2 separate regions of the Homo sapiens genome follow, and region 1 is linked to region 2. Evidence: fine-mapped expression QTL. A gene starts in region 2. The other region holds a variant in brackets. All regions are shown on one strand. Distances are between the middles of the regions.

Region 1 (16,177 bases), 46 kb before region 2:
GCTTGCTTTTGGTTGCTTGCTTTTTGTTATTTTTTATCTCTCCCTGAAGTTGAAGTCTGCAATCACTGAAGGGCATGCCACTGAATGCTGAAACGTAACCTTCACCAGCTACTTTATAGATAACATTCACAGGTCACCATGGTAACGGTTACTTCAGTTGTTTTTCAGAAACTTGGACCTGCTTCTGTCCAGTTCAAACTGGTTGAGACCACTGACCTTTTAACTGGGTCTGCTCAAGTGCTGGAGAGGCGGCCTTTTTATGTTGGAGGGCCAAAGACTCCATCCTCAGTCCATGCTAATGCTGCCATTTTCTGTACATATGTGCTGTGGAATGCCACAAACTCCAGCTAGGCTGTTGCAGAATGAACCTGTTACTTCATTTTTCCCCACTAGCAACCACCTTTCCCCACACCTTAGACCACCTCACTTCCCTAACCCATAAATACCCTTAAGCTTTATCTTTGGGGAGGCAGATTTGAGAGCTGTTCTCCCACCGCCTCCTCGCTGGGTGTCCTTTCGAATAAATCTTTTCTCTTTTGCAAAACCTGAATCATAGTGATTGATTTACTGCTTGAAGGTAGAACAGACCAGAACCTGGCATGTAACAATTATACCAGCAACAAAAGTTGTTGACAAGAAATTACTTTTAACAATTAATTTCATTAACCCAAATTAATTCCTTGATTAGTTTTCTACATAGCACACTTAAAGTATTTCCAATTTTGTCATGTGAATAAAATTACTATTTATGTTGTCATAAATAAACATGAATACAATGTCATGAGTAAAAATACTAAAATTATTTTGATCCGGATGAATTCATTTATGTGTAACTTATCAACACAGTCCTGTTTTAACAGTCTTTTGTTCAATTCAAATTTTACTATAACAGCTTCTACTACTGTGAGTTTTATTTTGGGGGCATTATTTTTATGGAGTTCTATTTTCCAAGGTCAAAATTTATAGATCTAAATCTTGCCACACACAGTTTTTATCTATTTTCAGTTTTATTGTAACCGCCCAAGGATTCATTGTGCCCACTGCCCAGATAAAGCCGATTCATCAAGACAGAGGAATTGCAATAGAGAAAGAGTTTAATTCATACTCAAATCAGTTCAGCTGCCTCTGCATGAATTAAACTCTTTCTGGAAATTCAGAGATTGGAGAGACTGACAATTAAGAGACTGGGGTTTTTTAAGGATAATTTGGTGCATAGGAGGCCAGGGACTGGGGAGTGATGATTGGTCCCATTGGAGATGAAATCATAGGGAGTTGAAGCTGTCTTCTTTGCGCTGAGTCAGTTCCTGAGTGGGGGCCACAGTACCAGATAAGCCACTTTATCCATCTGCGTGGTGGCAGCTGACCCATCAAGTTCAGGGTCTGAAAAATATTCTGAGCACCAATCTTAGATTTTACAATAGTGATGTCATCCCTATTGTAAATGGGGAGGTTTGGAATCTGTGACCTCTCGCTGCCTAACTCCTAAACCATAATTTCTAAACTTGTGGCTAATTTGTTAGTCCTATAAAGCAAGAAGAGGGTTTGTTTCAGGAAAGAGCTGTTATCATCTTTGTTTCAAAGTTGAAACTATAAACTAAGTTCCTCCCAAAGTTAGTTTGGCCTATGCCCAGGAATGAACGAGGACAGGTTGGAGGTTGGAAGCAAGATGGAGTCACTTAGGTCAGATCTCTTTCACTGTCATAATTTTCTCACTGTTACAATTTTTGCAAAGGTGGTTTCATTATTTTATATTATTTCTAGTTTTTTAAATTAGTTCTGTTATAGTTAGTATTTATTTCTTAGCTAATTCATGATAAAATTGTTAAATCTCTCAGTATTGGTCTCTTGCCCAGAATCATCTGTTACAAAGCCAATTTAATTCTTCTTATTATTTTTTGGACCTTGTATAAACTGTCCACGACACTTGTGGCCCAAAGCGCAAATATGCAGATAAAAGAGATTGCCTCTAAAAAAATAAAGCTGCTTTCTCTAAAAGAAAGGGGAAAATGCTAGGTTTGGGGGGGAAGGCTTTCTTGAGAAGATAGCATATGATCCGCATCACAAAAGACGAGAAAGAATTCACCAGGTGCCCATAGAGTCAAAGAACATTCCATAGAAAAAGCAAGTGTTAAAAACATGGAGGCAGGGAGAGGAGAACACATCATAGCACCAAATAAAAACTGAATGAACAAATACATCATCACTTCTAATATGAGGTTATAGAAAGTAAAGACAAATGGATGGGTTTGTGTATGGTAAATAGTAACTGGATTGTAGGATACATGGGAAGGGTGAAGGAGGTTTTAAATAAGAACATGAAGGGCTATGGAGATGAGTGAGTGGACGATGACATTCAGGCTCCCACTTAAATGAGTGGATGTACCTTGATGCTGTTAAACAAGAAAGAAAACACAGAAGGACATGAAGGCAACTGTCCATTCGTTGCTCTTGGACCATCTTGCCTTGAAAGATCTGACACACTGGAATCTGTTTTTTTTCCAAAGACCCCAGGAAAGATTTTTCACTGCTCCTTTGTTCAGTCATTTTGATGCTTTCAAATCCCTCATTAAAATCAGCAAAGGCCAGGAGCAATGGCTTACGCCTGTAATCCCAGCACTTTCGGAGGCTAGGCAGGCAGATCACTTGAGGTCAGGAGTTTGAGACCAGCCTGGCCAATATGATAAAATCCCATCTCTATTAAAAATATATATAAAAAAAAAAATTAGCCAGGTGTGGTGGTGCACACCTGTAGTCCCAGCTACTAGGGAGGCTAAGGCAGAAGAATTGTTTGAACCCGGGAAGCGGAGGTTGCAGTGAGCCGAGATTATGCCATTGCACTCCAGCCTGGGTGTCGCAGCAAGACACTGTCTCAAAAACAAAAACAAAAACAAAACAACAACAACAAAAATCAGCAAAATATTCCTGTTGTCTAACCGACTAATACTCTTGCTGTGTTTACCTCCATTTCCCATTCTGTCTTGAAAGAAATGGAGAACAGCTAGTTACCATATTTTAATAGGTGTATTTCCCAGGATGTTTTGTCTTAACCTCTCAAGTCTCTCTTTTCTGTATTCTGATTCAATCCCCTCCGTAACATATAACTCTTTGTTTCAGGGATTATTTGATCAGCCTGTTGGCCAGTGGTATTATGGCCACTGAATTTTTTAAAAATGCAAAATGTACATGTTTACTTAGTTGTTCTTACACTTTGCTCCATGCCTTCCAACAATTTCTTCTTTAGTTGTTTCTTTTCTTATTTTGTGGAAACTTGAAATTTAATGAGGAAATAAGGACAGCAAGTTATGGTAAAAGAGCCCATGAATATTTTGCCTGAGGAAAAACACTAACATGGTTAATCAGTGTCTTCAAATCTCAAAGGGTCTCCTTCTACCCCACCATAATAAATAATTCTTTACCATGGATTAAGTTCAAAGAATGAGGAATATAACTATAAGGAAGTGTGAATTATAGTGTGTGTGTGGGTGTGTGTGTATTCCCACCCAAGTGGAACATTAATGGCATAACCTACCTTAGGAGGTTGTGGTGTCTCTGCCCTAGACACCTTGGCGCCGTGGACGAAGTACTCTAAAAACTTAGAAGAACCTAGTGTGAGTCTCATCACTTTCATTTACTAGCTACATGACTTTGGGGAAGTTACTTTATCACTCTGAGGCTCAATTTCCCCATCTGTAAAATGGAGATAGTATACATTTCATATAATTTTATGAGTTAGATGGGATCATATATATGAATATGCTTTGTAAATTATAAATTATTATAAATAGGTAAATAACCTTTATCTGAGAAAACATTCTTCTGGAATGGCTTGAGAGATTTCATGTGGGATTATATATGCTTCACTTCTGAAGAGGGTCCCAACATCAGATGTCCTACCTGGGCTAGCTCATCTGCAAGCTCCATGAGTCCTCTCTCGCACCTGCTGCAGTGATTCTGCAACAAACAGATCATTCCCAGTCAGAGCAATAGAAGGAGGTAAGACAAGATTTCCAAAAAAATTGTCCCATTTTGTGTACATGCCATGATATATGTAACCAGTGCCCAATCTGAGGGATATGAAGACTACTTCTAGGGCAAAGATGAACAGTAGGGTCAGAATTGTTACCTGTTATTTCCTCCTAATGGAAAAAGTTTAGGTAGAAATTCTGGCCTCCCTACAGGCTGAGGCAGAGACATGAAGAGAGGGGCAGAAATGCACCCTATTCCCAGAAATGTCATCTTCAAATAATAATTTTGCCTGTTCATTTTCATTCCAAGTGATGTAGTGGAGCCAGCTGGTACCAGCTCTCAAGAGCCAATTGTTAAATTTCAAGAGTTTTGAAAATTGATTGTTAAACATAGCCATTATTAATATTTTAAAACGAAGGTAATAAATACTTAAAATTCATCATCACTTCCTAATTTTGTCACTATATTTTACTATTATCTATACTCTCAAGATTATTTATGTCTATTGTATCCGTATGGTAGGAAAGCCGTATAATAGCAACCTAACATATCTCTTCCCAGCTCCATGATTAGTGGTGTCTCATGGGTAATTTGAAATAAGTCATTGTGGAATTGTTTATACCATGAAAATTGGCAAATGCTACAAATAAGGTACCCCCCACCCAGAGCCATTTGTTAAACACTTAACCAGCACACCACTCATTTAATTCATTTGTCTAAATGCTTTTGGCTAGTACTTGCAGGGCACCCAAAAGCTCAAAGCAGTGTGGAGAGTTAGTTGACAATGCAGCTTCTGGAATCAGACTCCTGAGGTTTAAATTTGAGCTTTACCACTTACTGTATACCTTGGACAAGTTACTGACCCTTTCTTTGTATCTGTAAAATGAGGATAAAAGAAGAACTCCTACCTCATAGGATTACTGTGAAGCTTAAAACGATTACTACTAATAACACATACAGAACAAACAATACCTAACACACAGTATGTAATTACTTTGATTTAGATTAGTTATGTTAATTTAGTTTTAATTATGACATGGAAGCATCCTTCTAGTCCTATTTTACTAAAAAAATTTTAAGAACTGGGTATCAACATCAAATTTTATCAAATGCCTTTTAAACATCTATATAATTGATTAGAAGTTTTTCATCTTTGAAATATTAATATAGTGAGTTGTATTAGTGGGATTCCCCCTATTAGAAGAACCTTTAATCCCTCAAATGAATTTCACCTGGTCATGATGTACTATTCTTTGAATGCACTGCTGAATTCCATTTGCTAATAATTTAGTCTATTTCACCATTATTAATAAATCACCTTAGTTATAATTTTCTTTTGTATAATTTTTCAAGTTTTAGTCTCAATGGTTTGATGACTTTGTGAAAGTAATCAGCGATCCTTATTTTTTCTGTCCTTGCAAACAGTTTCATTAGCCTTGAAAATATCCGATTGCTACAAGATTTAAAATTTACCTATGGAGCTATCGGGGCCTGAAGCTATTTTGAGGCATAGCCTTTTGTTAACTTCCTCTATCTGAATGGCTCTCAAAGTTGGTTGCACATTGAAATCACCTGGGGAGCTTTTAAAAAATACTGATGCTATTGTGAAAGACAGTGTGGTGATTCCTCAAAGACCTAAAGACAGATACTGGGTATATACCCAAAGGAATATAAATAATTCTATCATAAAGACACATGCACATGTATGTTCACTGCAACACTGTTTGCAATAGCAAAGACATGGAATCAACATAAATGCCCATCACTGATAGACTGGATAAAGAAAATGTGGTACATATATACCATGGAATACTATGCAGCCATAAAAAAGAATGAGATCATGTCCTTTGCAGGGACATGAATGGAGCTAGGGGCCACTATCCTTAGAAAACTAACACAGGAACATAAAAACAAATATCACATGTGTTCACTTATAAGTGGGTGCTAAATATGAGAACTCATGGATATATAGAGGGGAACAACACATGCTGGGGCCTATTAGAGGATGGAGAGTGGAGGGTGGGAGGAAGGAGAGGATCAGGAAAAATAACTTATGGGTACTAGGCTTAATACCTGGGTGATGAAATAATCTGTACAAGAAACCCGCATGACACAAGTTTACCAGTGTCACAAACCCGCACAGGTACCCCTGATCTTAAAATGAAAGTTTAAAAAGTAAAAATAAATAAATAAATAAATAAATAAATAAATAAATAAATAAATAATACTGTTGCCTATGTGATGTGGTAGATACATTAATTAGCTTGATTTAATCATTTTGCTAACATATCAAAACATCACATTGTTTTCTATAAATATATAATTATTGTCAATTAGATTTTCTTCAAATATTAATACCTGAGTGTTTCTTTCCTGGTTTTTTTTTTTTTTTTTTTTTTTTTTTCACAGAAGGGGTCTTATTCTGTTGCCCAGGCTGGAGTGCAGTGGTGCAATCATAACTCACTGCAGCCTTGAACTCTCAGGCTCAAGTGATCCTCTCCCTTCAGCCTCTTGAGTAGCTGAGTCTGCAGGTATGTGCCACCATGCCCAGCTCCAATATGTTATTTTAATTGGTCTGGTATGCATCCTAGGGATGGGGATATTTAAAAGCTCTCCAAGTGACCACAATGTAAAGCCAAGGTTCAGAACTACTGCATTACATTCATTTCACTCAGTATATTTAATTTTGTTTCTATCTTTCATTCAACAAATTTTATTGATTCATATTAACCCAGAAAATTACCTACTTCTTTCTGGCTTTCAAAGTGATTGCCATAGAGTCTTGCAAAGTACTGTTGCATAATTATTTTTATTTTCTTTGTGGCTGTGATTATTTCACCTTTTAAAATTTGTGTATTTTTGCTCTCTTTCTACCACTTCATTTTTAATTATTAGATAGACAGTAGTTTGTCTATTTTATTGGCTTTTTTTTTTTTGAGACGGAGTTTCTCTCTTGTTGCCCAGGCTGGAGTGCAATGGCGCGATCTTGGCTCATCGCAACCTCCGCCTCCAGGGTTCAAGCGATTCTCCTGCCTCAGCCTCCTGAGTAGCTGGGATTACAGGTATGTGCCACCACACCCGGCTAATTTTGTGTTTTTAGGAGAGATGGGGTTTCTCCATGTTGGTCAGGCTGGTCTCAAACTCCCAACCTCAGGTGATCCGCCCACCTTGGCCTCCCAAAGTGCTGGGATTACAGGTGTGAGCCACCATGCCCGGCGTTTATTGGCTTTTTCCTAGGACCAATTCTTGAATTCATTTACTGATTCTATTCTATTTCTGGTTTGTTTTTTTTAATTTTTTTATTTCCACAGGTTTTGGGGGAACAGGTGGTACTTGGTTACATGAGTAAGTTCTTTAGTAGTGATTTGTGAGATTTTGATGCACTCATCACCTGAGCAGGATACACTGCACTTATTTGTAGTCTTTTATACCTCACCCCCACCCACTCTTTCCTCTGAGTACCCTAAGTCTATTGTATCATTCTTATGCCTTTGCATCCTCATAGCTTAGCTCCCATTTATGACTCAGGACATACAATGTGTGGTTTTCCATTCCTGAGTTACTTTACTTAGAATAATAGTCTCCAGTTCCATCCAGGTTGCTATGAATGCCATTAATTCAATCCTTTTTATGACTGAGTAGTATTCCATTTTATATATATATATATATATATGTATATGTGTATATATATACGTATATATGTATATATACACATATACATACATATATAAGTATATATACGTATATATACACATATACATACATATATAAGTATATATACGTATATATATACACATATATATACATATATACGTATATATATACACATATATATACATATATATATACGTATATATATGTATATATATCTCACAACTTCTTCATCCACTCATTGAATGAGGGACCTTTGGGCTGGTTCCATATTCTTGAAATTACGAATTGTGCTGCTATAAACATGTGTGTGCAAGTATCTTTTTTGTATAATGACTTCTTTTCCTCTGGGTAGATACCCAATAGTGGGATTGCTGGATCAAATGGCAGTTCTACTATTAGTTCTTTAAGGAATCTCCATGCTGTTTTCCATAGGTTGTACTAGTTTACATTCCCACCAGCAGTGTAGAAGTGTTCCCTTTTCACAGCATCCATGCCAACATCTATTCTTTTTTGATTTTTTGATTATGGCTATTCTTGCAGGAGTAAGGTGGTATCACACTGTGGTTTTGATTTGCATTTTTCTGATCATTGGTGATGTTGAGCAGTTTTTCATATTTTTTGGCCATTTGTATATCTTCTTTTAAGCCAACTTTTTTA[T/C]GGGACTGTTTGATTTTTTCCTGCTAATTTGCTTGAGTTCTTTATAGATTCTGGATATTAGCCCTTTGTCAGATGTATTATTATGAAGATTTTCTCTCACTCTGTGGGTTGTCTGTTTACTCTGCTGATTCTTCCTTTTGCTGTGGAAAAGCTCTTTAGTAAGTCTGAGCTATTCATCTTTGTTTTTGTTGCATTTGCTTTTGGGTTCTTGGTCATGAAGTATTTGCCTAAACCAATCTCTAGGAGTGTTTGTCCAATGTTATCTGCTAGAACTTTTATAGTTTCAGGTCTTAGATTTAAGTCCTTCATTCATCTTGAGTTGATTTTTGTATAAGGTGAGAGACGGGGATCCAATTTCATTCTCATACATGTGGCTAGCCAATTATCCCAGCACCATTTGTTGAAAAGAGTGTCCTTTCCCCATTTTATGTTTTTGTTTGCTTTGTCAACGATCAGTTGGCTGTATGTATTTGGGTTTATTTCTGGATTCTCTATTCTGTTCTATTGGTTGATGTGCCTATTTTTATACCAGTACCATACTGTTTTGGTGACTATAGCCTTATAGTATAGTTTGAAATCAGTAATGTGATGCCTCCAGATTTGTTCTTTTTGCTTAGGCTTGCTTTGGCTATTTGGGCTCTTATTTGGTTCCATATGAATTTTAGGATTTTTTTTCTAGTTCTGTGAAGAATGATGATGATATTTTGATGGGAATTGCATTGAATTTGTAGATTGCCTTTGGCAGAATGGTCATTTTCACAATAATTGATTTTACCCATCCGTGAGCATGAGATGTGTTTCCATTTGTTTGTGGTGTCTATGATTTCTTTCAGCAGTGTTTTGTAGTTTTCCTTGTAGAGGTCTTTCACCTCCTTGGTTAGGTATATTCCTAAGTTTGTTTGTTTGTTTTGTGGCTATTGTAAAAGGGGTTGAGTTCTTAATTTGATTCTCAGTTTGGTTGCTGCTGGTGTATAGCAGAGCTACTGATTTGTATACATTAATTTTGTATCTTAAAACTTTGCTGAATTTATTTATAAGTTCTAGGAGCTTTCTGGATGAGTTTTTAGGGTTTTCTAGGCATATGATCATATCATCAGCAAACAGCGACAGTTTGACTCTTTACCAATTTGGATGCCCTTTATTTCCTTCTCTTGTCTGATTGCTCTGGCTAGGACTTCCAGTACTATGTTGAATAGAAGTGGTGAGAGTGGGCATCCTTGTCTTGTTCCAGTTCTCAGAGGGAATGCTTTCCACTTTTCCCCATTCAGTATTATGTTGGCTGTGAGTTTGTCATAGATGGCTTTTATTACATTGAGGTATGTCCCTGGTATGCCAATTTTGCTGAAGGTTTTAATCATAAAGAGACGCTGGATTTTGTCAAATGCTTCTTCTGCATCTATTGAGATGATCATGTGATTTTTGTTTTTAATTCTGTTTATGCGGCATATCACATTTATTGACTTGTGTATGTTAAACCATCCCTGCATCCCTGGCATGCAACCCACTCGATCATGCTGGATTATCTTTTTGATATGCTGTTGGATTCAGTTAGCTAGTATTTTGTTAAGAATTTTTGCATCTGTGTTCATCAGGGATATTGGTCTGTAGTTTTCTTTTTTGTCATGTCCTTTCCTGGTTTTGGTATTAGGGTGATAGTGGCTTCATAGAATAATTTAGGAAGGATTCCCTCTTTCTCTACCTTGTGGAATAATGTCAATTGGATTGTTACCAATTCTTTGAATGTCTGATAGAATTTAGCCGTGAATACATCTGGTCCTGGACTTTTTTTTCCTTGGTAACTTTTGTATTACCATTTCAATCTTGCTGCTTGTTATTGTTCTGTTCAGGGTTTCTAATTATTCTTGATTTAAGCTAGAAAGTCAACAACGAAACAGTGGATTTAATCTATGCACTAGAACAAATGGACTTAACAGATATTTACAGAACATTCTACCCAATAGTCACAGAATATACATCCTATTCATGAGCACATGGAACTTTCTCCAAGACAGACCATATGATAGTCACAAAACAAGTCCCAATAAATTTAAGAAAACTGAAATTATATCAAGTACTCTCTCAGAACACAGTGGAAAAAATCAGAAATCAACTCCAAAGGAACCTTTGAAATCATGCAAATACATGGAAATTAAATAACCTGCTCCTGAATGATCATTGAGTCAACAATGAAATCCAAATGGAAATTTGAAAATTCTTTGAACTCAACGGTAATAGTGACACAACCTATCAAAACCTCTGGGATACAGCAAAGGCTGTGCTAAGAGGAAAGTTCATAGCCTTAAATGCCTACATCAAAAAGTCTGAAAAAGTACAAATAGACAATCTAAGGTCATACCTCAAGGAACTACAGAAACAAGAACAAATCAAACCCAAACCCAGCAGAAGAAAAGAAATAACAAAGATCAGAGCAGAACAAAGTGAAATTGAAACAAAAAAAATACAGAAGATAAATGAAACAAATAGCTGTTTCTTTGACAATATAAATAAAATTGATGGACCATTAGCAAAATTAACCAAGAAAAGAGAGAAGATCCAAATAAGCTCAATTAGAAACAAAATGGGAAATATTACAACCAACACCACAAAAATAAAAAAGATTGTTCAAGACTACTATGAACACCTTTACACGCATAAACTAGAAAACCTAGAGGAGATAGATAAATTACTGAAAACATACAACCCTTTTTCTGTTTTCTTACTCAACAATTTCTGCTTTGATCTTTACAAATTTTCTGCTTCTGGTCTTCCCTTTGTTAATTTTGTTTATCTGCTTCTAATCTCTTTGGCAATTTCATTTTGTTTTGTGTCATTTAAGTTCATTTATCCTTATTCTTTTCGTTAAGTAATAGAAGTATTTCAGGCTATTAAATTTTCCTCCAATAAATATCTGTGTACAGTATTCGTTAATATATAATACTTTTATCTGAATTTTTTAAGATCACTTACAATTGTTTTGAGTTCCTGCTTAATATAAGAGTTGTTTTTGGATGGCTTCTTAGTTTTTCAATTTTCAAGTAGGTAATGTCAGTTTTATTATTGTCACGGAATCACTTCTGAATTGGTTGAACAATCCTTCGAAAACATCTCCTTGGTAAAACTTAATTGAATATGTTTAACACTAGACACTTAAACAATAGGAAAAGTAACTGATCTATTGAGTTTTATAAACAGAAGAACTGGCACCAGATACCTTTCCATCCCAAGCAGATTGATCTCCTGGCTTGAACTTTCTTGGGAAGGGAATAGTTAGGACTCAATGCATCATCTAAAAGGATGGATGGTGTCCGTCAGGTACAGAATCCCAGGTGTGCAACCAGGAGTGAGGCTTTTTTCATTGCTTCCTTCCATGCTCTGTCAGAAGCAAGTTCACTGTAAGGTCATTATGGTAGGCAAGGGTCAGCAAATTTGTTCTATGAAAGGCCAGATAGTAAGTATTATAGATTTCGTGTGCTGGGTTACTGATATTGCATATGGGACATACTCATAATAAAAAATTGTTTATTGTTTATCTCAAACTCAAATTCAACTGGGTGACTTATATTTTTATTTGATAAATCTGGCCACCCTACTTATAAGCCATATGGTCTCTGTGGCAACTACTTAGCCCTGCTGTTGTAGTGGGAAACAACCATAGACAATACTTGAATCAGTGGGTGTGGCTGCATTCCAGTTAAACTTCATAAAAATTGGCAGTGGGCTATATTTGGCCTGAGGGCCATGGTTTGTCCACCTCTGCGTTAAACCACTGTTTTTCAACATTTTATGTGCATCAGAATACCATGGAGGGTTTTTTAAAACACTGATTTCTGAGCCCCATCCCTGGAGTTCATGATTCCCTAGATTTGGGATGAACCTCAACAGTTTGCATCTCTATCAAACTCCCAGGTGATGCTGCTCCTGGTGGTCTGTAGGCCACACTTTGAGTATCGTTGCATTCAAGGAAATGCCTTATTGCCTTTTTGTTGCTAGAACCCACTTAGAGTAACATAGGCTTTTTTATTACTATTTAAAGACTTCATCAATCTTATGAGACAAAAACTTCTAAATGCTGAAATTTAAATAGTCTCATGTCCAGAACTTCCTAGCCAGCAAGGCTTCTCTAACACATATGGAAACTTTAGGCTAATTATAAAAAGTCACTCCCTCTCAGGGAAGAATTAGAAAAAAGGCACAGCTTTTTTTTCCTTCAACTTTTATTTTAAGTTGAGGGGTTCATGTGCAGGATGTGCAGGCTTGTTACATAGGTAAAGATGTGCCATGGTAGTTTTCTGCACAGATCATCCCATCACCTAGGTATTTAAGCCAAGCAACCATTAGCTATTCTTCCTGATGCTCTCCCTCCCCCCAGTCCCCAATGGGCCCCAGTGTGTGTTGTTCCCCTCTGTGTGTCCATGTGTTCTCATCATTCAGCTCCCAATTATAAGTGAGAACAGGCAGTGTTTGGTTTTCTGTTCCTGCATTAGTTTGTTGAGGATAACGGCTTCCAACTCCATCCATGTCCCTACAAAGGACGTGATCTTGCTCCTTTTTATGGCTGCATAGTATTCCATGGTGTATATGTACCACATTTTCTTTATCCAGTTTATCACTGATGGGCATTTAGGTTGATTACATGTCTTTGCTATTGTGAATAGTGCTGCAATGAACATACACAAAGGCACCACTTCTTCTGAATTCACACAGCCCCTCGCCAGGATACACAGCTTGGTCAGTTGAGTGCAGGCCAGATTTCAGCATCTATTCTTCCCTTCAGGAGCCTCTATGCAGTGCACAGACTGCATGACACAGCTGGTTGACCAGAAGAATGTTATCTACAATTTACTTAATCAAAATAACACATTCTAAATTTAAAATATTCCATATGAATTTATTTGTTTTCTTGCAGTGAAAAGAAAAACATGAAAGAATATTCTTAAGGAAAATCCCATGCACAAGCTGATACCTGCTCTCCTTTCCTCATATCTCAAGGGGAGAAAATAAACAGAAGTTTAAGAAATGTTTAAGAAAATTTAAGAAATAAACAGAATTTTAATGTCTAGTTTTAGTGTAGTGAATATGGTCTGAACTGTTTTGGCTCTTTGGAATTCAGTTTTCTTTATAGTCTAATATGTCAACAGTAGTATTTTGTAAATGTTCCACGACCCTTCACAAGAAGGTATATTCCCTATTTGGAGATGATAGATTTTAAAATATTTCTACTGATAAACATATCCTTTTCTGTAGTAATGTCTATATATCATGGGTTCTCTATATTCTTACTTATCTTCCTGATATAAGAATGACTTGGGATGTAGGAGAATACCAATGAGGGAAGGGAGAGAGTTTCCATGTGTCATTTTGTATCCTGGCCACATAGCACAATACTGACAACATAACAGGCACTCCCCTATCAAATGAATGAGCTCTTTTTGGCTGTAAAGTAGGTGGAGTGCAATTGGCCCCAGTGATCCATTCAAATAAAAATGGATTTCTATCCTCTTTCCTTTCTCCCAACTGGGCTTGTAGTATATTCCCTAATCTGGAGTCAGCTATAATTGGTGCATTTTAATTAGAAAAACCAGTCAATATTTTTCTCTGATGTTTCTTCTCTTTGGTTCCAGTCTTATTCATTGAGGTTACACAGACAAAGTAAATTCTCTCTTCTAAATGGAAAACCTGTAAACATCCATGTTTGGCTTTCAGCAAAAGAACGATAATAAAAATTAGAAAAATTTGTGAAACCCAAAATAACAATGAAACTACATATAATTTTGTGGAATATAACTAGGGCAGTAATTAGGGCAGAACTTTCTCTTAAAAGAAGTTAAAATTTTAAAAATTAGCAAACAACTTAATCACAGAATAAAATACATTATGCAAGGAAAGGGAAAGGAAGAAAAAATGCACATAATAGATGGATTGAACAAAATTCAAAGATTGATTAAACTAATAAAGGTCGAAGAAATTAATACTTTGACAGTTCTCTGGCATGATTTATGTTATAAAAAAACAGACTTAAATAAACAATATTAAAAATGAAAGGGGCACAGATGTTGCAGACTGAATTATAAGGGGGGCTTCTGCTTCTGATATTTATAGACAAGGTAATTTGGATCAACCATCTCAACAAAAACAACCAAAAGCTTGACACATTTTAAAATATCTACAATAAAGGCATTAAAGAACTAAAAATGCAGTGAAGAATTTTAGAGCCAAGATCCAGGAGCATTCACTATGTATTTAGCCACATTAGAAATAGCTGATGTCGCCAGGCGTGGTGGTTCACGCCTGTAATCCCAGCACTTTGGGTGGCCGAGGCTGGTGGATCACCTCAGGTCAGGAGTTTGAGACCAGACTGGCCAACATGGTGAAACCTGCCTCTACTAAAAATACAAAAATTAGCTAGGAGTGGTGGCGGACCCAGCTACTCGGGAGGCTGAGGCAGGAGAATCGCTTGAACCCGGGAGGCAGAGGTTGCAATGAGCCAAGATCATGCCATTGCACTCCTGCCTGGGTGACAGAGCGAGACTCTGTCTCAAAAAAAAAAAAGAAAGAAAGAAAGAAAGAGGGAGGAAGGGAGGGAGGGAGAGAGAGACAGAAAAAGAAAGAAAGAAAAAGAAAGAAAGAAGCAAAGCAAAGCAATAGCTGATGTAGCTGAGGAAAGAACTGGTAAAGTGAGTGACTCATGCCTGTAATCTAGACACTTTGGGAGGCTGAGATGGGAGGATCGTTTGAGTCCAGGAGTTCAAGACCAGCCTAGGCAACATGGCAAAACTCTGTCTCTACAAAAAATACAAAAAATTATCGGGGCGTGGTGGTGCAAGCCTGTAGTCCCAGCTACTCAGGAGGCTGATGTGGGAGGATAGCTTGAGCTCGGGAGGTCAAGGCTACAGTAAGCCATGATCATGCCACTGCACTCCACCCTGGGCAACAAAGCAAGACCCTGTCTCAAAAAAAAAACAAAAAACAAAAAAAAAACAAAAAGAAAGAAAGAATTGGTAAAGATGAAGGTATGTCATAAAGAAGATGAAAGAAAGAATGGATAGAGCAAAAGCAATATTTGAAGAGAAAATAGCTTGGAATTAAAGAGGCCTTAAATATCTTCAAAATATTTTATTTATAAAAAGAAAGCCATAGCTTGACACATCACTAGAACTTCTGAAAATGAAAGGCAAAGAGAAAAACTTAAGAGGAGCCTGAAAAAAAAAAAAAAAGGCAGATTACCTTCAAAGGAACCACGATCAGGTTGGCAGTGTTTTTCTCAATGATGCAAGTCAAAATATAAAATTTTCTTGTTTAAGATTCCATTGTAGCAGACTAGAGAAGGGTTGTAAGTCACAGTGATATGCTCCTGCTGGCCTGGAAGAAAACAAACATCCATGCTGTGAACTGCCTGTGGGGGCCGTGTGGCCAGGAACTCTAGGAGCTGAGACCAATCCCCAGATGACAGCTAGTAAGTCATACGACTGCAAAAAAATGATTCTGCCAGCAACCAGTGAGCTTGGAAGAAGACCAATGCCTCAGATGAGAATGGCAGCCCCAGATGACTCCTTGATTTCCACCTAGTGAGACTGAGCAGAAGACTCAGCTAGTTCATACCCAGACTCCCAACCCATGGAAATGGTGAGATAATTTTCACTTGTAATAGTAAAGAAAAATTGTAAGATAAATTTTAAGATATTGTAAGATAAGATAAAGCAAAAAAATCATATGATAAATTTTACTATAAGCCACTAAATTTGTGGTAACGTTACACTGCAATAGAAAACTAATATATGTTTTAATTTTTTTTTTTTTTTTTGAGACGGAGTTTCACTCTGTCGCCCAGGCTAGAGTGCTGTGGCGCGATCTCGGCTCACTGCAAAGTCCGCTTCCCGGGTTCACGCCATTCTCCTGCCTC
Region 2 (16,177 bases):
CTCCCGCCTGGGCAATAGAGTAAGACTGTATCCAAAATAAATAAATAAATAAAAATAAAATGGCTGTATGATCATCACTAAAGTTTATTTCACCAATAACATTTTCTAAGATTCTAAGGGATGGTAACATGTGTTTTTTTATTCCTGGCTCTAAAATCTTATAATTCTTTAGATGTTATATACTTAAGATTCAATTACACACATTTTCTGCCTATTATAAGACAGGTCCCTTACTACTAATTCCAGACAGACTTTCCCCCACCCCACACTGTAACATCTCTGAAATGGAATGTGTCTTATAATTGATGGCAGCCTTCAATTACTGTTGGCCACACAGCAGTCATGACATAGTTGTCATTGCCTACACATGCCTGATCTATAATCCCTTGATGTTTCAGTTAATCAACCATTTAATGACCCTTGAAGGAATATTAGTCCTAGTTGTTGTCTGAACACCTTCCCTGAACATGTTCTAGCAAGATCAAAAAATGTGCCAGCATTAAAACTTGCATACTAGGTATTGTAGCCTGGAAGAATTTCCCATAGACAATACTAGAGGACTTTTTTTTCTTTATAAGAAATGCCACTTCACTAATACTCAAAATGGCCCAGAGAATAGAAATGCATGGGAAAATACATCAAATATTCTGAGTCAAAAAGTGATTCAAGTGTCAGACTCAGTGTGAAAAAAATTAAATAATACCATAATGACTCAGTTATTTCAGTGCATAGTAGTGATTTTTTTAAGTTCTATTTCTAAGCAACTCTAAAAGAGTTCTTTAAGAATGAAACTTTAAAATATAAATATAAGAAAGCATAGCGATAATTTGACAGTGTTTTTTCCTTTCTTAATGGTACCTAAAATAGGATGCCATACAGTCAATTGTGCCTTAAAGTCAATAAAATAGATACTTCAGAGACTATAAAAATGAGAAAGCAGTTCCAGCTCTCAAGATAACTGATAATCCAGAAGGGAGAATATAAAAGCACATGAGGAATAATAGAAGTAAGGCAAAATACAGTTACCATGCTCCAAATAGGTACAAAGAAAAAGATTTGGACATTTTAAGGAGGAAGAGATCACATCAGGAAAGGCTCCATGATGGAGGTAGCATTAGAGAAAGGCTTTAGAGAACCGGTAGAGTTCTAACTAACAGAGACATGATGGAGCAGGAAAGTAAAGAGAATGACCAGAAAACCAGATGCAGGAAAATGAGGGGCATTTCTGGGAAATGGTGAGTAGCATGCACATTTTAACTAGAGTTAGTTACCCTTTCTGACTTTACAGGCTTCATTAATAATTTGATGAAAATTATGAACCCTATTCCTTGAAATAAAAGCACAAATTCATAGTCAAAAAGTTTTACATGCTATTTCTGGGGATTTCCCATTCACAGCGTGAGAGAGGGAAAAGGGGCAAGGGGAGGTGGGGAACACCTCTGAGAGGCTGGTGCAGGTGGCCCAGGCTGCAGAAGTCCTTTTTCTGGAGGAGATGTGCATCTGACTGCACTTGGGAAGCATGACTGAGAGATACGGAATTGAGGCCAGAGGGCGCTCATTTAGATGGCTCACTCAGGGATTAAAGAAACTGGGATACCCCTGGGAATCATTTCCAGCTTTGACTGGGATGATATGGGCTTCTTACCTGGTGGGATGGTGTCTAGAAGATGTAGTTGAGAAATGAAATATATAGGTTAAAAAATATTCCGGGCCTAATTAGGGAGGACCTTGACTCCCCACGCCCACTGGATTTTAAACTTAGTTTAAGAAGCACTAGGGACACACAGATTTCGAGAAGAATGAATGTTCAGAGCTCTGGTTTAGGAAGATTAACCTTCGGATGAAAGGTATGTGAGCAAGGCCAGGGGAGACAAGTCAGGAGTATATTGCAGTTGTTTTTTACATTCTTCATATACATTCTATTTATTTACTTTCTCTTCTCTCCTTGCCACCCACCATTTGACAGAGAGCCAGGACTTTAGCAGGCATCTGATAGTGCTTGTTGAAGTGAAAGCCATAAATTCCCTGAGGCTCCCCTTGTAATGTCCCTATTTCCCGACAGGTGGCACCATTACAGCATTATTTACAGAGCAGGGTTGCTTCTATAAGCACAGTGCTTCCAAGCAGAAAGAGAATTCACTTTCTGGGGACAGTCTAAATGTGAGGGGAAATGGTAGCTAGAGTAAAAGATTCAAAAACATGTCTTTTGTTCAAAAATATTTCTTACCATACCAAGGTATCCTGGCTGAATTTCTTCTTCAAGGCATACAAACGAGGAAGATGCTTCTGAAAACCTGCCTTTTCAAAGATGCAAGCAATTTTATGTCTTGCAAGAAGTATACACCTAAATATATTTGGGTAAGGACTATTCCTTAGTTCTGGGAAAACTACTAGGTGAGCCATTTCATCATACATATCAAACAGAGACTATCATTTATGGTGATCCTGAGATCATGTAAAACTGAGTGTTCATGTTGGAGGCCAGCTTACATCTCTTAGGGAAATAACAATTTCTCTAAGAGCAGATTTTAGCCATACCAGGATAAAATTGTAGCTTACTTCTATGAAGCTATACATGTTTTCATCTTGAGAATAGGAGCTAAATCCTGAGAGAGGCCCCTTAAACTAGTGTGAGACGGGAGTGCCAGAAACTGAAAGAGTTGTGATGAGTTACACGCAGCACAGCGTGTGTTGGCCCCAGACATAAAATGGTATAAAGCCATGGCAGGGGCTATTTCCTCACCTCCACAACATCAGCAATGCTCCAGCAAACTCCAAGTACTAGCAGACTCGGAAGTATTGGGAGACAGGATTTTTAGAACATCATGAGTGTCAACAGAATTTGAATGTGTTGAATAGGTGATGAGTAATCAGATTTATGTAAAAAAATTCAATTCAGTGTGGAAAACTCTGGAGGAAAGGATGCCAAGAGTACCAGGTTAGGGAAAAGTCATTTCCCCTTGGGTATTTCTCAAGTTAAAAAGTCTCATTGCCCTTTATCTCAGTGATTCTTACCTTTTTTTTAACTTAATTCTTACTTTTTAAGAATAAAGTTGAAACAATGTACATTTCTCTAGAGAATGTACATACGTAATGACTTTGCATTCAATTTCAAGGGGTTGTGGCCCTCTGAAGTTCAGTTGTGACCCTTGCCCATGAGTCTGCGCTTAGGAATCCCAGCTGAAACTCACTCATCAGAGAAGAGAAGAGGTCGGGAGGCATTACAAATGAGAAATGCAAGAGGAGAGTGGGGAATAGGGAGAAACAAGGACCTCCTATCTGTGCTGGATCGTTGTGAGATGCTGGGCGCAGGTGACTGAATAAGGTTGAAGCATTGCTTTTTCTGGAGAGATTTTTATCTATCTGGGACTTGAGGGGGCAATGGTTAAAGAACTTCAAAGAGGCCCTAAGGGACTGAGGACAGTGGGCATAAGAAGGGGAACTGGAGTCAAAGGCTAAAAGACTCTGCCAGAACGTTCTACAGAGGCTAAAGAGCTAAACTGCCCTTGGCTTTTTTTGAGACATGGTCTCACTCTGTTGCCCAGGCTGGAGTGCAGTGACACAATCATGGCTCACTGCAACCTCAATCTCCTAGGCCCAAGTGATCCTCCTACGTCAGTCCCCCAAGTAGCTGGGATGACAAGTGTGAGCCACCGCGCCCACCCTAAGGTGCCCTTGGGATTCATGTCAGACTCTGGAGAATCTGAGATATAGGGAACAGGAAAGAGGCACAAGAATGGAGCTGTGTGAGAGAACACCTGGGAGCATCGGCTTCTTCCTCTTAAGGAACAGGTTCAGGAGGCCATCTTCTTGGTGCTGTTATTATATTACCACCCACTGGACTCTGGGAAGGGTCACTAACCAAAATCTGAACTGCAATTTCTTGTTCCAACTAAGAAGATGAAAAGTAACCAAAACTAAGGTTATTTCCTTTTCAGGATTGGATTAGGCTTCGATACCCTTATTTCTCCAAACTGAAGATCGCTCTCTGAAGATCCAAATAAGAGAGCAGTTAGCAAAGTGGTTTCCATCTAGGGCTTTTTAAGTCAGACAGATCTGGGTTTAAGTCCTGGCTCTGCCAAGTACTAGCCTGTGACCCTGAGCATCTTAGAGTCTGTTATATGAAAATAATAATAGTGCCTAGTTCATAGGGCTGTTGGGAGATAAAATTAGGTACAGTGTCTGGCACATAGTAGATGCTCAATCAATGATAGTTACTGTTTTTCTTAGTGCCTACTGCTGGAACTATAATAGGAACCTATCTCCCAGTCCTCAGGGACACTTTCCCACTTATATACTTTAGCAGCTCTCTCTAGGGCCCCCAGCACACATTCCCCAATCACTGCATAACTCAAGATTCCTCTGGCCAGCCTATGTGTTCAGGTCTGGCTGTCCCCCAAGACCTTTTTGGCCCATAGTTACATGACATTCATGATGACCCTTTCATTTATGATGAAAAGGTCCATGCTAGCTTAGGAATCTCACCATTCCCCTTTCCTTAGTCCCGTCTAATTCTAAATAACTAGAATTCTGTAGATAGAATCAGATAAGTAGAATTAGATAGAACAACTAATATCTAATTCTAAAGAAGAATAAGGGTTTTTTTTTTTGAAACAAAGTTTCGCTCTTGATGCCCAGGCTGGAGTTCAATGGCACAATCTTGGCTCACCACAACCTCCACCTCCCGGGTTCAAGTGATTCTCCTGCCTCAGCCTCCCGAGTAGCTGGGATTACAGGCATGTGCCACCACGCCTGGCTAATTTTGTATTTTTAGTAGAGATGGGGTTCCTCCATGTTGGTCAGGCTGGGCTCGAACTCCCAACCACAGGTGATCAGCCTGCCTTGGCCTCCCAAAGTGCTGGGATTACAGGTGTGAGCCACTGCGCCCGGCCTCAAGGATTCTTCAGATAGGAAAAGATTATATAAAAAGAAAGTTTCTAGAACCTTCCCTGGGTAGCTTTGTTTTCCCAGAGGAGCCAGTCACCACCACCCCCTACTCCAATAAAACTATAAGGAAACTAACATTTGCACAAGACTTCCTAGGAGTCCTATATATTTTTCTCCCCAACAACTTCTTGTCCCCATTTTACATATCCAGAAACTAAGCCTCAAGCACTCAACTGTTAGAACTGAGATTTAAGTCTTTAGTGCTCTCTCTTTCCACCACTCTGCAGCTACCAGCAGCTAGCGCACACACACACACACACACACACACACACACGCACATATACACACACACATGCACATATACACACGGCACCCTAGCTCATTCTGCTCTCAAATTTTGTTCAGGGGCAGCCTCAAGAAATCTCCATTGCCCAAGGGAGTAGACTAGAGCTGTCAGTCAAGCCCTCTGGGGAACACCTTACCCGGGTTCTCCACTAGAGGCCTGAGGCAGTTATTGTGGTTTCCCTTTGTGATGTGTCACTATTTCCAGAGATCCCAGGCAATCCCTCCAGAACAATACCCCCACCCCACTCCCTCCATGGAACAGGTGCAGTATCTGCCATTCCAGGACCCAGATTTGGAAATCATTTCCCAGGGCTTCACTGGGATGCTTCACTGAAAAAGAAGTCTCCTGCACATTTGGAGTTCTGGCTACTAAAAACTCATGTTAGCATGGGAGTCTCAACACTTACCACCTCCTTCCCCAGGGCAGCTTGAGGTCAAGGTCCAGGACAGAAGGGAAAGCAGGGAGAGTTGGCAATGCCTGTCCCAACCAGGGCAGGGACAGTCAACTCCTTGAACTGGAGGCAAGGAGAGAGGAGGGAAGGCATGGCCCCTGCAGTTCCCACTAAGACCCACCCTGATATCCCCTTAGTACCAGTCAGCAAGGAGGGGAGATGACGCCTTTTTATTAAGGTTAACACCAAGGAAAGCATTGAGAAGGAATACACAAAGGAGGGGGAGGGCACACAAAGTCACCACTTGAGGAGGTGGAAGGGCGGCACATCAGTAAAAGAACCTCAGGACAGCCACATGCTCCATGCCCTGGTTGGGGGAAGAGGGAGAGAAAAGCGCCATTGATAGCTTGGAGCTCGTAGAAGGGTCTGAAGCCCCTGAACCTAACACCAGAGCCACAAGCCCTGCCCCTGAGGGCTCACACACTACTACACAAGTAGACACACATAACACACACAAGACATTATGAAGGCAACACCGAGAGGCAGTGGGCAAGGACATATTGACAGAAAAAGGAACTGAAGTTAAGCAGGTGTAGCCAGGAGAGACAGTTTTTGGCTGCGGCCCCAAGAGTCCCTCAAATGTCCCCTAAATCTGGGCTGCTGCTGAGCACCCCCGAGTCTCTGCCTGTGAACCGGGCTCTTTGTTCTCTAAGCCCCAGGGAGTGGAAAAGCAATCCCAGATGAAGTCAGTGACAAGGCAGGATCCGCTCTGCATGCAAAATCCTAGAGGTTGAGCTATTATGTCTTCATGCACATTCATAGCCAGCTCCTCCCAGCCCAGGGGCCCTTGGAACCCCATTCACCCAGATTCCTAGGGCTGCAGTTCCCTCCTCAAGCTTCCTTTACCAATCAGCAGCCGCAGAGATCTGTGAGGGGGAGAGGCTTCTGCAGAGCACTGAATATCTTGGATTTCAGCAGAAGGGTAAATTTCCTGTTGCCAGAACAAAATACCCCCAATTCCTTAATTTCCAGGTAAATTGTTAGAGATTATTTGCCATGGTCCTAGGTAAGTCCTTTTTCAGAATAGAAAAAGCAGAATTTTATTTACACAATTCACGGGTTCTCCTGTTGTCTGGGAAGGGGGAAAGGACAGGATAGGGATGGATGGGAGTCCAGAGATGGGCGCTTCCTCTCCCGGAGCCTCACCTTTCCGCAGTTCGCTATAATTCGCTTAGTTGGGCAGAAAGAATTCTCGATGCTCCCAAAGTCCTTCACCCTACAAATCCTTCCTCGAGGGAGTCTCTCTCTGCCTGACCCACAAGAGCAGCTGTCCAAGTGAAGCATGCCGCACCGCGCCGTTCAGTCCCCCTCGCGTCATGCACTCGGAAACCCAAAGACAGCCCGGGAAGGTAGTGCCCCACGGAGTCCCCTCACAGGGAGGCCTCGCCCTCCAGTTGCAGCAGGGTAATGTCGGGCATGTCGAGGGGCTCCACAAGTGGCCCGTCCCCCCCAAGGAGACCAGCACAGGGGCTTTCGGGGCGCTCACAGTGACTGGAGGGTGTGGCGGGGCTGGGCATCTCCTTCTCTTCTTCCTCTTCCTCCTCGTCCTCGGGATCGCGACCCAGCAAGCCGCTGTCCCCGATCCCAGGCGAAGGAGTCTCCGGCTCTTGGGGGTCGCTCTGGAAGCTCCCCTTGCCGCCGACCACGCCCAAGCCGCCCTGGCGGGGCGCAGTGGTCATAATCTGGCACATGGAGACGATGGCTCGCTGGTTGGCGCACACGTCGTCCGAGAGCACCTGGATGTGCGAGGCCTGCTCGTCCAGGGCCCCCCTCATGGCCCTCACGTCCTCAAACAGGGCTTGCAGCTGGGCTTTCAGGTGCTCCATCAGTTCCTTCATGCCGCCGTTGTACTCCCCGGAGATCACGTCCCCCACTGCCGGCACGGTGGACACCTCCAGGGGCGCCGGCATGTCGCCGCCGTCCTTGGTCATGATCTCCAGCAGACCGTCCTCCATTGAGTGGCAGAAGCGGGTGGCGGAGGCTCTGGGTCGCGTCCAGCCCGGCCTCCGGGGTGGGGGAGGGGGTGGAGGGGGAGAGGTCCCGGGAGGGGCTAGCGGGAGCCGAGGGAAGCGGAGGCTCCCGAGACTGGCGGGGAGCCGACGTGAGAGACGAGTCCTGGGCAGAGGGCGCAGGCAGGATCGCGGGAGGCCGAGAAGAGGCTGCGGGACGAGGACCCGGCGAGGGTCCCAGAGCCGGCGTCTCTTGGGATCGCCCCGGGACGAAAGTGCCCTGCCCTGCCTCGCCTCCCGGATCGCGCCCGTGTCAGCGCCGCCCTCTGGGCGCCACAAGCAGAGAGCGCCTGCCGGTTCCGTGGGTCACAGACGCGCTCGCGGAGGGGTCCGCGTCCAGGCTGAGGCCAGCGGCGCGTCGGACTCGGGACTCCCCCAGGCCATTACCGGGCAGCGCCCGCGAGTGTGGCAGCAGCAGCTGGGGTGGGTCTCCCGGGGGTGTCGCGGATGCTCCTCTGTTTCCAAGGCGACGCACGGCACGTAAATGACGTGTGTCTCCATGGTAACCAGGAAGTGGCGAAGAAAAAGGGAGGATGGCTGGAAGCTGCAGTGGGGCTCTGGAGTCTGGACTAGCGGGGTGGGGGGAGGAGAGGGGACGCTACAGTGGCTTCGGCCAAGGCTGGAAAGAGCGTGTGGTCGCAATGTTTAATAGGGAAGTATGAGAGAGCCGTCTGCTGCAGAAACCTCCAAGTCCGGGAGAGATCGTCCCTCCCCTAGCCGGGGTATGAGACCCAGCGAGACTGCCCTGGAAAGATTTTTCCAGCCCGCATTCCTTTCTCAGAGGATGGCGCTAAAGTCGAGTCCTGCCTCCCTGTCCTCCAGCGATGCGCAGGAAAGCGGAGAGGGTAGAGAGGCTGTTGCTAATGATCCCAGAGTTGAGCTGGGGCACGGTGGCGCTCTGGAGCCGGACCCACCGGGCCTGACGGTGCAGAGGCAGGAGGAGGGCGCTACGGAGGTTTCTGCAGTAAATCAGCCCTCTAGCTATAGAAATCACCGGAGCGGGGGAAGGATGGGACTCCCTCCTTTATGAGACCCTACCGCTCCTACGCAGGTCTCTGGGAGTTTGTCCCAGATGGGGAGGCCAAGTGCTTAAGTTTTGAGAATGAAAGCTCCATAAGGGGAGAGATTTTTGTCTCCCCTGCACCCTCCATCACGGAATCCCCAGCTCCTAAAATAGTGCCTGGCACCTAGTATGTAGATGCTTAATATAGTTATTGAATGAATAACAAAAACCACCAAGTCCCACGCTCTCATCCAGAACTCCCCAAGCCAAACGTAGTGGGTTTTAGGAGACCTGAATTCAGTTTCGTTTCTGCCACTTATTCATTCAGCGACCTTGGCCACATCATTTTCCTCATCTGTTAGGGAATTGGACTGGATAATCTATAATACTATTTCTAATTCTGAATAACAGTCTGCATCATCTCACAGGTGAAAAGGTAAACTGTTGACCGTTGTGTGGAGGGTATGGATGGGGGGACTGTGTGTTAGAGTAATTCCCGCTCTCTCTTTCAGTGCCCAAGTTCAGACATACACTGAGTATCCCCAACCTTTGTGACAAGCCCTTTCCCTATTTAAGGGGTGGAGCAGGAAGGGTGGAGGAAGAAGAAAAATTGTCTTTAATATACGTAGATGATTGCAGATTGAGAAGGAATCAGCACCTGGGCAGAGCACAATAATTAATAATGACCCTAGGAAATTAGGGAAGCCAAGTGATCGGAAGCCAAAAATGAAGTTCATAAGAATAAATCTGGGAAAGAGAAACAAACTATATCACTTCAAGATAGAGAAGAACTACGTAAAGGTGAGTGTTTTGTAGACTGGCGGTTCAGTGACAGCAAATGTGTTACCTTTGGGTTTCCCTGGTTATGTGCTTGGTGATGAAGAGTGAGGCTGGCCCAGGGAAAGTTTTGTGACACTAGAGGACTGCTTGACCTATACCAATCTTACTGCTTTTAAAATAGAAACAAGTGGGGACTATCCTAAATGACCAGCAGCAGAATGTTTAAATAAACTAAGGCAAAATTGCTGATACATAAAGTATTATGCAGCCATTAAAAATTTGATTTCCCAAAACAAATATATGAACAAATTTTAAAAACACAGTATTGTATTTTCTGAAACTAATGATTCAATTCTATTTGCTTGCTCATTTCTTCCTTCATTCTACAGATTTCCAGCACTCTCACCTTGCTTAGGACTCCTACCTCTGCTCTGTACCCCACACGTGGTAATAACACCTTAGATTACTCCTGAAACTCTGGCTCAAGAGAGGACAGAAATGCTTTTCCTTGGTTTCCATAAGCACAGCTGAAGTGGGCTGGTGTTTACAAAGAGACTTTATTAAAAACTATAGGAAAACTAGAAATAGAAACAGAACACATGAAAACAGCTGAGCTTACACAGCATAAGTTTCTGATTATACTACAGCAAGCATGTTCTCAGGGCTTATAGGTCCAACCCTGCTTTCATCCTTCCGAGGAGAGCTCTGCTATAGCCAGAAAAGACTGGCATGGCTTTCAGACTTTCTGTCTAGGTCTGTTACTTTACATCTCTTGACAAGCACTTCACATGGAAGATTTCATCTTGCCAATTCACCCTTCAGGTATATCCCTACCTTCTACCTACAAAGAGTGACTCTGTCCCAGTGGGGGACCTCTCATTGTTGAAATCCCATAAGCTTACACTAAGCATAGCCCCCATACAGGAGGAGCTATGGTATGTCATCATACAAGGCCTTTTGCCACTATTCTTGAGGATGTGAAGGCTTTCAGCATAAGATTACATCATGCTGTCCAGAGGTGCTGGCCATGAAGTCCACTGAGAGTACAAGGGATCTGAGCCCAGAGGGAGGGGAAATTATTGGAGAAGCACAAAAGGCCATGGGAAACATGTGCAGAGATCAAGCAGTTTGGCTGGTCCAGTCAAGTTCCAGGTCAAACATTTGAGAGCCAAGGGTAGGTGGGAACTGGGGGAGTGGACCAGTAGCAGGATTTGAAAATATAGGAAGGTGGCTGGGTGCGGTGGCTCATGCCTGTAATCCCAGCATTGTGGGAGGCTGAGGTGGGTGGATCACTTAAGATCAGTAGTTTGAGATCAGCCTGGTCAACATGGTGAAGCCCTGTCTGTACTAAAAACACAAAAATTAGCTGGGCATGGTGGTGGGCACCTGTAATCCCAGCTACTCCAGAGGCTGAGGCAGGACAGTCGCTCAAACCCAGGAGGCAGAGGTTGCAGTGAGCCAAGATTGTGCCACTGCACTCCAGCCTGGGTGACAGAGCAAGACTTAGTCGAAAGAAAGAAAGAGAGAGAGAGAGAGAGAGAAAAGAAAGAAAGAAAAAGAAAGAAAGAAAAAGAAAGAAAAGAAAGAAAGAAAGAAAGAAAAGAAAGAAGGAAAGAAAGAAAGAGAAAGAAAGGGAAAGGGAAGGGGAAGGGGAAGGAAAAGAAAAGAAAAGAGAAAAGAAAAGAAAAAGAAAATATAGGAAGGAGACATTGGTGCATCTGATAGAAAACCAGATCATTTCAGGAACTCTGTGTGAAAATGAGATGAGGTAGAAAAGTCTAGTCTCAGGAAAATAAGGAGAATAAGGAGAACAGAGGCAGAGCCTCAGTCAGCTAGATGGGTTACAGGCCTGGGCCCTCTGGATCCCAATGCCCTATAGTTAGTTGCATGGGTCCATTTCCAAGCAAAAGGTGGCCAGATGTATACCCCAGCCATCCTACTAGAATATTCAGAGGAACTGCCACATAATAAGAGAATATAACCCCCGCACAGCTTCTGCTTCCTGCTTTTCTATTATCCTCTGGGAATCCCCTTAGCTATTCTCTTCATCCCACTCTTATCAATCTGTGATAGGGAGAGACCCTCATGCTATCTACATATAGGTTTCCATCAGGTACACCTAGTTTCAAACCTCATATTCTCACTAAAATTGGGATTTGGAAGAGGCTCTGCCATTTTCCTCTGTCTGGTGTCTCGTGTATCTCTAGTTTCTATTTTCTATAGCTGGTGTATTTTTTGCACTATAAATCCGATGATGCTGGCTAGACTCAGGTCTAGAGCAATGATTTAAAACAAGATATAGCTGACTGCTGTACCTTAGGCGCCAAATCCCAGACAGTATCCCCCAAATATAACTTTCATGAAGCTGACCTGTTTTGTGGCCCATCACAGCTTGATATCACACTCAAACATATCCAATAGCCAAAAGAATTAAAAAGAAATTTAGATTTTTATTACAGTCTCTGGGCAAACTTTAAAGGGGTTTACATTCTTAGTGCACAGCGAAACATCTGAAACTTGTCTTCCTTCCTTCTCTATTTGTTCCACACATTATGGCATAGCTGTTGCTGCTGGTCTCTCTCTCCCCAAACACTCCCACACTTTCTCTCAAGCCTGGCCCTTGCTTTCTCACTCCCTGGCTCTCTTCACTTCTTGGATGTATTCTTTTTCTCTCCTCCAAGAAGCTTCCTGTCCTCACATAAATCAGGCCAAGCTTATTTTAGCTCTTTTGATTCTGTTCCTCATTCCCCCAATCTGCATAAGTACTGGGAATCCCAGCTATCAATTACAGGGGTCTTCTCAGAGGATAAAAAAGATGGAGAGGCTGAGAATATTCGCATTGTTGTGGGTTTTGCCTGTCACATAGGCTAGTTTTTCTCAGCACCAGAGAGTGGTTTACCTGGCATTACAGCCAATCTGCTTTGTTCATCTCCCCGACGTTTGCACAGAGAAATGGACATGGTGGTTTGCAAAGACCCTGGGCCCTTATGAGCCTCTAACTGGAGAGGGGATCCAACTGTCCACACCCTCAAGATTATTTAGTGTCATAGACATGGCCGTGTGGTGAGCCACCTACCCACACCTCACGTAAGGCCTGAACTACACTTCCAGTTGCTTGCTCTGTGACTTCAAACTATTTTTAGGAGTCTTTAAGGCTACCCCTAACCTCTTATTTCTCTTCCATATTAATTTAACTCAGAGCAAGAATTCTAGGGGACCTTCCAACTTCTCATGCAATATGAATCTCCACTGACAATAACCCCCCATTCCAATTAAACCTGTTTTGCCAGTGTCATCCCATCTCCCCTTTCTGCACTGCCCCCTGCAGCAGCTTCTCTTAGATCAACACTTGCAGAGCCTTTTCCCCCTCTCAGTGCATATTCAAACATGTATTCAGTATCACTGTGATGTCACCAGTTCCAACCCAAGTCTCTAGGTAGCTGGCCATGGACACAGAAGCATTCAGAACTCCAGAACCACCAATGATCCCTGGTGCATGGTCTCAAGCACCTTCCATCTTTTCCATAAATTATTTTGCCCCCAGAAAGTTGCCATTTTTGCAACAGCTTAGAGCCTGGTTTGGCCCCAAGTCAGGCACTGACAGTGCTGCACCACCTGAAAAACCAATTTCTAGTTCAATGGAGGCAATTTTGTTTGACCAATTGCCTCTCCCACAGTATCAGTCCAATTTGAAGGAAATCATGTCCAAATATCTATGGTAGGATAGGGACTATGATATGTGTGCCATAAACTTCCCTTCTATTAAAGGTATTTTTAGGAATTTAATGTCCCTCATAGCTGACTTATGCAAACTTCCAGGACCTTCCTTGCCTGTCATATCTTGAGGAAGTCTGTGCTATTCTATCCTACGCAATTCTACAAAACTTTGTAGGTCTCCCTGTTACTAATACATCTAGTTATACTAAGTCCATCCCTCTCAGAGGCCCCCCCAAATAATGTCAAAAGTTATTTCTACCACATTCTCAAGGGCCAGCGAGGCACTATCAGTTACAGTTTAGCAGCCACTGTGAGGGTGCATTCTGTTTCCATTGCCCAAACACAGATGGAGACTATACTAGTATTTGTGATGATACCATGGACAGGGGCCCCAAAATGTAATCCATGTCTTCAAAGTACTGTAGAAGTGCTGGATCTTAGGCAAAAGTGAGGAGAAGGACCCTTTCCCCCAACTTTTCCACCTAGAACCCCGAGGCCCCTATTTTAAGAAGTCTTGCATAAAAATAGCTCCATCTTCTACGGTTGACCACTCGTTCACAGTTCATAGGCACAATGCCTGCTCTTTTGTTTGTTTTAAAGCACCAGGATCACTTTCATGCTGGAACTCTAATCCTTTTGCTTTGCTTTATTCTTCTCCACACCAGTTATCAATATCTGTTATCCTGTATTTTTGTTTATTTATTTTATGTCTTATTTATTTATCTTTTACTCCCAACTAGGGTGTAAGATCCATTAGAGCAGGGGGTTTGTTTTCTTCACTGCCTTATCTGTAGCACCTAGAATAGTGCCTGGCACATGGCAGATGCTCAATAAATATGTGTTGAATAGATGAATGAATGAAGTCTAAATCCATACCTAGAAAAAGAAACAACTCCCTTAAGGACATGTAGTCTGCAAAGCTCCAACTCTGCCTTTTCTTCGAGAACATTTTAGCTTTTTCAGTTTCAACCATCTACTTCGGTAATCTATGGCTTATGGTCACACTATTAAGTGGCCCTGTTGGTGGCCTTTCTTGAACAAAGGAATACTTACTTCAGAGACAAATGGAAGTCTCTATTTCTTACAAAATAGAAAAGTGCTTGCAGCTTTGAAATGAGAGCTGTCACCACCCCTCTAACCTCCCTTGGGATATTCCACCACTATCCCCATCGAAGTCTCAAAGATACCAGGGCCAAGTTTTGTCAGAACTCAGGGTCAAAGAAATGCACGCTCTCTGCTCCCCTCAGCATTACCCGGGAATGGGATGATATCAAGCCTGTATCTTCATACTGCATGCTAAGGAGAACTCCTGATTTATATTCTTATTCTGGTGGAGACAGCCTCAGAAAAAGTACCCTGTTTCTGGTTGTAAGATTAGTAGCTAACTGAGAAAGGGACATTATGAACATAGAGATTACTATGCTTTAAAGCTTGTGTATGTCTTCTCTTTGTGTTCCTAAACTGGTAGACTAGGGTGATTTAGGGTAGTGCTATCACCGAGTTACATGTTTTACTGTAATAAAATTGAGTCCTTCTTGTCCCTTGCTGCCTCCTTTCCTTGCTTCTGTTCTAAAACCAAACCAGACAAAAACTCCCCATATTGATCAAATATATAACAAAAAATACATAAAGGTCAGCCTTCCCAGGATAGTAAAACTAAATTAAAACCAAACAGCAAACATGGATCAGAAAAATAATATTCCAGAAATTGAGGTTAGTCTCTAAACAACCTAAGTGAGACATTTTTGGTAAGGTCTTGTTATTCTCCACAGTGTTGTCTGTGTCTCTAAGACGCAGAAGGGAACAGTATGTCAGGTTTACTGGTAATTGCCTGGATCAAATGAGTTAAACTGGGATAGATTCTCCTCAGAGGATGATCCTGAGTCACATATCCAATCTCTCATTCATCCCAGTTCATCCATCACCATAGCACACATGGGCTTCCAGCTGCTTCTTATACTATTAAAAACCAATTCCCTCTTACCAAAGGCATTAGTAGTTTTGCTGCTCATTAGAACAATGAGTATCATCCAAGACACCTCCAGGTATATTAAATGATAAACTGCTCACAATTTCACATTATTCACACTGAAATCACTGAGTTTAAACTGCAGGGAGGTCTGTGGGACATAAGCTCCTCTGCTTCATACTTGTGGACTTAAACTAGTGTGTTAGGGGAGAGTCTCTTCCTAGAAAGGAGAGATGGTGGAGAAAGATTCTAAGAGATGGAGATGATGTAATTTGAAACTTACTGCTGTAATTTGAGACCTAAGACCTAATGGAAGAAAGCAAATAGTCAACAGATGTGAGAGAAGGAAAAGCTAGAAAGAATTTCTCAAAGGATTTGTAACTCTGAGACAAACTAGCATTATTCCTACTTCCACTGTGAGGTCAAGATGCAGGATAAAGCATTTAGGTTAGATTTCTTAAAGAACTTGAGAGTGATGGATGTGTGAGAGAGGAACGAGCCTGCATTTCCTCTCCAGGAAGCCTTGAAAACCAGAAGACAGTCTTACTTGTCTGAGTTTAGCTTGGGAAAAAACAGCTTTACATATCCCTGAGACCAGCTCTGTGCTATTTCAGCAATTCTACCTCCCACATTTTAACTCCAAACCAAAAGTTGAATGAATTCTGAAATGATTGCATGTTTTTCACAATAGAAAGATTACCACAGTCTCTTAATACCCTCAGATGCTTCTCTAATCCATTTTCTTCTCCCTATTTCCCCAAGCAATGCCATACTCAGGCCCTTGCGATCTCCTGCCTGGAAGACTATTCCTCTGCTACATGTGACTAGAGGCTAGCAGATTGGACAGTGCAGCTCTAGGATTTACAATATACACCTGTAACATATCATAGTCTACTTTTAGATAGTGTAAAAATCTTATAACAATTTACTTTCAGTTTCTCCCTTATGTTTTTTATTGTTTTTGTCATACATATTGCTTCTACGTATGCTAACACCCAACCGGATTTTTATTATT

What was found. PIP is the estimated chance that this variant, and not a neighbour inherited with it, causes the effect.
Region 1: its variant is the best candidate, but not a certain one, in a credible set for the expression of CCDC184 in whole blood (TOPMed, PIP 0.60).

Annotation. Positions count from the first base shown.
Region 1 is chr12:48,221,385-48,237,561 of GRCh38, reverse strand. It overlaps LOC102725258 (a long non-coding RNA gene), which reads right to left. Exons shown (of 3, transcript XR_001749122.3): 2 at 15,502-15,636; 3 at 2,846-3,951. Among named protein-coding and RNA genes, the nearest start is that of OR10AD1, 26 kb to the right of the region's middle. The variant T/C (reference allele first, on the strand shown) is at 8,278.
Region 2 is chr12:48,175,585-48,191,761 of GRCh38, reverse strand. CCDC184 (coiled-coil domain containing 184) reads right to left here and starts at 8,118. Exons shown (of 1, transcript NM_001013635.4): 1 at 5,836-8,118. The coding sequence starts at 7,639. The coding sequence ends at 7,055.